2 linked regions of the Homo sapiens genome follow. The protein of the gene in region 1 interacts with the protein of each later gene in a pairwise test. Each region holds a gene or a part of one and is shown in the gene's direction. Other genes may lie near its edges.

Region 1 (3,653 bases):
AGCTTAGTCTGTCATTCTTATAACCTCTTTCCTGAGTCTCATCTTAGATGCTTTTGTCTTAGATATCAGTCCATTGAACCTTGTCTTCATTGGACATTAGATAAAACAATTCCAACCCTAGCCAAAGATGAATTTAAGGTGACTCCACTGCAGGGTGTAGTAGTATCCTAAGTGCATTCCAGAATTTCCTCCAGAATATGTAGAAAGAATGAATAAGACCTACTATTTGATAGCACAATGGGATGACGATAGTCAATAATAACTCAACTGTATATTTTTAAATAATTTAAAGAGTGTAATTGGATTGTATGTAACTCAAAGGATAAATGCAGATTTTTTTTTCTGCAAAAAACATTGCAGATTTTTTTTTCTTCGGTTAATAGGCCCTGGTGGGAAGAACCTAGTCTTCTCTGAGTCAGAAAGGGGTCTTTTCCTGGCTCATTCTGCACTCAGCAATCCCTCAGGTTTGGACTCCTGGAGGTCCAACCTTCACCCTGGGATCTGTGCACCTGTGATCCATAGCATCTTCCTGCTGATAAGGCCATTCTGCCCTTGTGAAGTTGGGTGTCTAAACCTGTTCTCGGACAATGGTGCTGTGCCATTCATCCCAGGAGCCCTCCCATGTCAGGCCTACAGCCTCGAGACACTCTCAGCAGACCTTTGGCCTCCGCTGCAAAATCCTATCCCTATAAAGACTCCTTCAGAGCCTCTCTGGCCAGTCTATATGCCACATTTACTCTCCTCTGCAGAGCAGACTCGAGGGGTTTACCCTGAGCCCAATCATGATATAGCTCCTGCTAGCTTGGCTACCAGGAACGCTTGCTTCCTCACATGCCTGACTCCCACTCTGTCTCATGCCCAACCACAGCCATCTCTCTTGAGAATGTTGTTCTTTTAGAATGTTGTTATGTGCTGATTTGTGTCTCCCCCAATTCACATGTTGAAGCCCTAACCCCCTCTCTACCCCGGTACCTCAGAATGTGACCTTATTTGGAAAGAGAATCTTTAAAGAGGTAATCAAGTTGAAATGAGTTCATTAGGGTGGGCCCTAATCCAGAATGACTGGTGTCCTTATGAAAAGGGGAAATTTGGAGATAGAGAGACACACAGGGAGAACTCCATGTGGAGATGAAGGCAGAGACCGGTGATGCTGCCACCAGCCAAGGAGCATCAAGGAAAGTCCACTGAAAACCACTGGAAGCTCAGAGAGAGGCAGGGGACAGATTCTCCCTCAGGGCCTCCAGAAGGAACCAACCCTGCTGATATCTTTTTTCATTTTTGATTTCTGTGGGTACATAGTAGGTGTATGTATGCATGGAGCACATGAGATGTTTTGATACAGGCATGCAATGTGAAATAAGCACATCATGGAGAATGGGGTATCCATCACCTCAAGCATTTATCTTTTGAGTTGCAAACAATCTAGTTATACTTTGTTATTTCAAAATGTATGATTAAGTTATTATTGACTATAGTCACCTTATTGTGCTGTCAAATAGTAGGTCTCATTCATTCTTTCTGCCTTTTTTTGTTTGTTTGTTTTTTGTAACCGGCCTGCTGATATCTTGGTCCTGGACTTCTGGCCTCCAGAACTGGGAAACAGCAGGTTTCCGTTGTTTAAGCCATGCGGTTTGTGGCACTTTGTTATGGCAGCCCTAGCAAACTAATGCAAGTGTGTTTATGAGCACTAACACTGTGAACATTTGGAAATAATAAGAGAGACGGATTTCCACTGTTACTTCCTCACACTTTTTTCTGAGATTGGATCTATTTCCTGGCTGTTTAGATTCAAATAGCATTTATTTGTATCTACTATTTGCATTTACTATATGTGAGAATTTTTCTTTTTGACACTAGTTTATATCACCCTCCGAAATAACCTCATAAACCATTGTTCTCATCACTTGCCAGATGAGGAGCTGGGATTCAGTGAGATGAAGAGACTGAGCCAGGCCACCAGCTTGGAAGTGGGAGAGCTAGGATCAGAATTCAGGTCTCTTGTTTCTGAATTCAGGGCAGGGTCCATTGTGCTGTGCTGCTAAGCACGAATGTAGTACCCTCCCCCCACCCCATCTGCCTTGGGCTTTTCTGAAAATATTAACCATTTAGCGTGGGAGCCTCCTGCTAGCATTTACAAGGCTGAGTCCTGCAGCTCTGCGGTGCTTACACTGCCCTCTCCCTGTGCTGAGTGCCCGTGCTGCTCCAATCTCCATCTCCATAGAAAGGGTTGCAGGAGGTGCCCCAGGTGTCACCTGCATCCCAGTCACCTGACAGGCCCATTAAACAGGAACAGTCTTTAGGCAGAATCATATATTTTTTTCTGGTTTCAAATGCAGTGCATGCTCCTAATTAAACATTTAAAAAGCATAGAAAAAGCACACAGAGGAAAATAATGCCTCTCTCAGCATTTAGGTTTCATCTTTCAGGTCCCATGAAGACGATGCTGTATTTGCATCTTATACGTGAAGGTGATGTTTAAAGTTCCGGATGGGGGGATGGGAAAAATTCCTCAAACTGCTTGGAAGCTCAAAAACCAAGAAAAATTATATTTGTTCATTTTTGTATTTAGGAAACTATATGGAGGTAGTGGGAGCCCAAGTCTAGTTTGAATGGAGGAAGAGAAAGGGGGAAAGGTCATGGAGAAGTAAAGGGATTTTTCTTTTTTTCTTTCAATACTGGGCAAATATACTTGAATTCAGGCAAATTACATACCAGGTAATTACTGTAGGTGATTCCTCCATGTTTCCCTCTTACCTCCCCCTCAAGCCCCCACAACAGGCTCAGGCTGAGTATGCTGTTCTATATTTTTCCTAGCTGTTTTCTGGGATTTAGTCTCTTTATGGGTTGTATTAGTCTGTTTTCATGCTGCCGACGAAGACACACCTGAGACTGGGTAATTTATAAGGAAGAAGAGGTTTAATGGACTCACAGTTCCATGTGGCTGGGGAGGCCTCACAATTATGATGGAAGGTGAAAGGCACATCTCACATGGCAGCAGACAAGAGAAGAGAGCTTGTGCAGGGAAACTCCCCTTTATAAAACCATCGGATCTCATGAGACTTATTCACTATTATGAGAACAGCATGGGAAAGACTCACCCCCATGATTCAATTACCTCCCACCTGGCCCCTCCCACAACACGTGGGAATTGTGGGAGATACAATTCAAGATAAGATTTGGGTGGGGACACAGCCAAACCATATCATGGATATAGAAACATGGCTGTGTGTGTGTGTGTGTGTCTGTGTGTCTGTGTGTATGGCTGGGTGTGTCTGTGTGTGTGTGTGTGCAGGGACCAGCTTTCTGAGTCTCAAATGCCCTTGAGGTCAGACAGGTTGGCTGCCCAGAGCTATGGCTGGTACCACTCCATAGGCTTCCAGCTCTAGGTCTTTGTGTCAGATGGGATAGGTACCTAATGTCTGCCTACATCTCACCATGTGGCTTCTGTGTAATGAAGCAAAACCAAAAGTCTGGGTAGGTTTTTCTTAATCTAACACAATCTGCTTTACAAATGATGCCAGCTTCTCCTAGATTCTGGGATTAGGTTGCCTACCAGTCTTCACTTGTGGTGATGTTGTGAGTCTTGGTCTTTTTCTATGTCTTCACAGGCATTTTAGTGGGCAGTTAGGCAAAGCTGATGCCCTTTGGCCTGG
Region 2 (3,653 bases), on another chromosome or scaffold:
ATTGTGAACTCTTTGAGGAAATGATCCATGTCTTATTCATCTTTGTACATCCAGCACCATGCCCTATGCCAAGGATGCCACACCGCTGAATGGTGTTTTTTTTTTTTTTGAGACAGTCTTGCTCTTTTGTGCAGGCTGAGTGCAGTGGTGCTATAATGGCTCACTGCAGCCTTGACTTCCTGGGCTTAAGTGATCCTCCCACCTGAGCCTCCTAAGTAGCTGGGACCACATACGTGTCCCACCATGCCCAGCTAATTTTTACTTTTAATTTTTGTGGAGATGAGGTCTCACTGTGTTGCCCAGGCTGGACTCAGACTCCTGGACTCAAGCAGTCCTCCCGCGTCCATCCCTCAAAGTGTTGGGATTACAGGCATGAGCCACCAAAACCGGCTGTCACATGGCTGAATTTAACTGACTTATTTTGGTGCAAAATTGAGTGACCAATGGACATATTCATTGCACATATAAATAATAACTGCATTTGTATCATAATGATATGAAAGAACAATGCTTATGCAAAATGTCCCACGTAACTATGTGGATATAGAGGTTTGTAGAATTTATTATAAGGAAATAAGGCAAGCTTAAAGAGTATATTTTGTACACATTATTTTCTATTTTGTTTAGGAATAAAGACAAGATAGAACTAGACAGCAGCAGCCCAGCCTCGAAGGAAAATGAAGAAAAGGTGTGTCTGGAATATAACGAGGAACTGGAGAAGCTGTGTGAGGAACTGCAGGCCACCTTGGATGGGTTGGTAAGACATAAAGACGCAGGCCACTTGTGGTCACTGTCACTGAATCCGATGGACGTATTTGGGGTTTGCTTGACCATTGGCCATCACTTACTCCTTCTCAGTCTCCTCTGATGTTCTCTTCCTCTGCCTGCTGCGTAAACCTTAATGTTCCCCAAGATGCTGTCTTAGACACTCACTCCTCCTGTGCGTCATCCGGGGAAATGTCACCCACTTTCAGGGCTCATCACATAGTAAATTTTTTTTTTTTTTCCATGATATGGAGTCTTGCTTTGTCGCCCAGGCTGGAGTGCAATGGCGTGATCTTGGCTCACCGCAAACTCCGCCTCCTGGGCTCAAGCGATTCTCCTGTCTCAGCCTCCAGAGTAGCTGGGACTACAGGCGTCCGCCACCATGCCTGGCTAATTTTTGCATTTTTAGTTGAGACAGGGTTTCACCATATTGGTCAGGCTGATCTCAAACTCCTGACCTCAGGTGATCCACCTGCTGGCCTCCCAAAGGGCTGGGATTACAGGCATGAGCTACCACGCCCAGCCACAGAGTAAATATTTTAGGCTTCCAGGGCCAGCCAGTCTCTATCTCAGCTACTCATCTCTGCCACATAGGACTAAACAGCCATAGATAATATATGCGTAAATGGATGTGGCTGCATTCCATGAAAACTTTATCTTTGTTTTTTGGATTTTCTTTTTTTTTTTTTTTGAGATGGAGTCTCATTCTGATACCCAGGGTGGAGTACAGTAGCATGATCTTGGCTCACTGCAAACTCCGCCTCCCAGGTACAAGTGATTCTGCTGCCTTAGCCTCCCAGGTAGCTGGGATTACAGGCTCGTGCCACCACATGAGCTAATTTTTGTATTTTTAGTAGAGACAGCATTTCACCATGTTGACCAGGCTGGTCTCGAACTCCTGACCTCAAGTGATCAGCCTGCCTTGGCCTCCCAAACTGCTGGGATTACAGGCGTGAGTCACCGCACCTGGCCTTTTTTGTTTTTGTTTTTGTTTTTTTTGAGACAGGGCCTCACTCTGCCACTGAGGCTGGATGGAGTGCAGTGGCGAGATCTTGGCTCACTGCAACCTCCGCCTCCTGGGTTCAAGCAATTCTTGTGCCTCAACCTTCCACATAGCTGGGATCGCAGGTGTGCGCCACCATGCCCAGCTAATTGTTGTATTTTTAGTAGAGATGGGGTTTCACCATGTTGGCCAGGCTGGTCTCGAAGTCCTGGCCTCAAGTGATCCACCCACCTCAGCCTCCCAAAGTGTTGGGATTACAGGCGTGAGCCACCATGTTCGTCCAGGAAATCTTTATCTTTGGACACCGAAATTAGAATTTTGTATAATTTTTATGAGTCACAATCACTATTGTCCTTTTGGTTATTTTCAACCATTTAAAAATGTAAAAACCATCTTAGCTTATGGGCCATACAGAAATAGGCTATGGGCCAGAATTGACCTGTGTTCCAGGGATAGTTTGCCCATCCCTGATACAGCACGTAAGAGACTAAAGTGTTTGTTTAATGAACTAATAACTAAATTTCAATACCTACCATACTGGCCACCAGATGTGAAGATAACACCACCTTATTTCTTTGCTAGGCACAGGAAATCAGGTTTTACACATATTTGAACTTGGATAACTGAAGCTTACCCATAAACATTTAAGATCTTTATATTTTCACCTTTTTGTTTGTTTGGAGACAAGGTCTCGCTGTGGAATGCAGTAGTATGATCACAGCTCACTGCAGCCTTTACTTCCTGGGCTTAAGTGATCTTCTTGCCTCAGCCTCCCGAGTAGCTGGGACTACAAGCATGAACCATCATGCCCGGCTAATTTTTAAAATTCGTTTGTACAGACGGGGTTCTCATGTTGGCCAGGCTGGTCTCGAACTCCTGACATGAAGTGATCTTCCCACCTTGGCCTCCCAAAGTGCTGGGATCACAGGTGTGAGCCCTGGCGCCCTGCCTTAGCTTTTCCGTCATGTCTTGTTTTGGCTTCAGGATCCTGTATGACATCGAGTCCCCTTGTTTCCTCAGGCTCCTTTTGGCCGTGACAGTTTCTCAGACTTCCCTGTTTTTGATGACTTTGACAATGTTGAGGGATACTGGTCAGGTATTTTGTAGAACATCATGAGATTTATCTGATGTTTTTCTCCTAATTAGACTGAGGTTACGGGTTTTGTTCAGAGGAGGACCACAGAAGTAAAGTGCCATTTCTATCATGTCATATCAAGGGCACGTACTGGATATACTGTCATCAGGACTTTTCTTTGGGTCCCACCTATTGCCCGGGCTGGTCTCAAACTCCTGGGCTCAAGCAGTGCTCCCACCTCAGCCTCCCAAAGTGCTGGGATTCCAGGCGTGAGCCACTGTGCACAGCCAGGACTTTCCACTGCTGAAGTTGACCTTGATCACCTGGCTGGGCAGTGTTTCCAGGTTCCTCTGCTGTGACGTTGCTCTTTCTCCTCCTCCCACGCTGTGCTCTTTGGCAGGAAGTCACTATGCATAGCCCACACCTGGGGGTAGGGACGTATTCACCACCTGCTTGAGGGTGCAGTATCTACATAAATTATTTGGAATTATTCTGCGTGGGAGATTTGTTCCCTCCCTCCCATTTGTTAATTTTTTTTTTTTTTGAGATGGAGTTTCACTCTTGTTGCCCAGGCTGGAGTGCAGTGGGGTGATCTCTGCCCACTGCAACCTCTGCCTCCTGGGTTCAAGTGATTCTCCTGTCTCAGCTTCCCAAGTAGCTGGGATTACAGGTGCCTGCCACCACACCCAGCTAATTGTTGTATTTTTATTTGTTTTTTTTTAATTTTTGTTTTGGCCAGGCGCAGTGGCTCATGCCTGTAATCCCAGCACTCTAGGAGGCCGAGGCAGGTGGATCACCTGAGGTCAAGAG

The links. The genes of interacting proteins can lie anywhere in the genome.
Region 2: the proteins of BAALC (region 1) and CINP interact in a two-hybrid assay, tested with the Homo sapiens proteins (one study listed by BioGRID).

What each region holds. Positions count from the first base shown.
Region 1 is NC_000008.11:103,147,111-103,150,763, forward strand, and holds part of BAALC (brain and acute leukemia cytoplasmic protein), read left to right. Parts: intron 1-3,653. UniProt on the Homo sapiens protein: May play a synaptic role at the postsynaptic lipid rafts possibly through interaction with CAMK2A.
Region 2 is NC_000014.9:102,352,872-102,356,524, reverse strand, and holds part of CINP (cyclin-dependent kinase 2-interacting protein), read left to right. Parts: intron 1-627; coding exon 628-757; intron 758-3,653. UniProt on the Homo sapiens protein: Component of the DNA replication complex, which interacts with two kinases, CDK2 and CDC7, thereby providing a functional and physical link between CDK2 and CDC7 during firing of the origins of replication.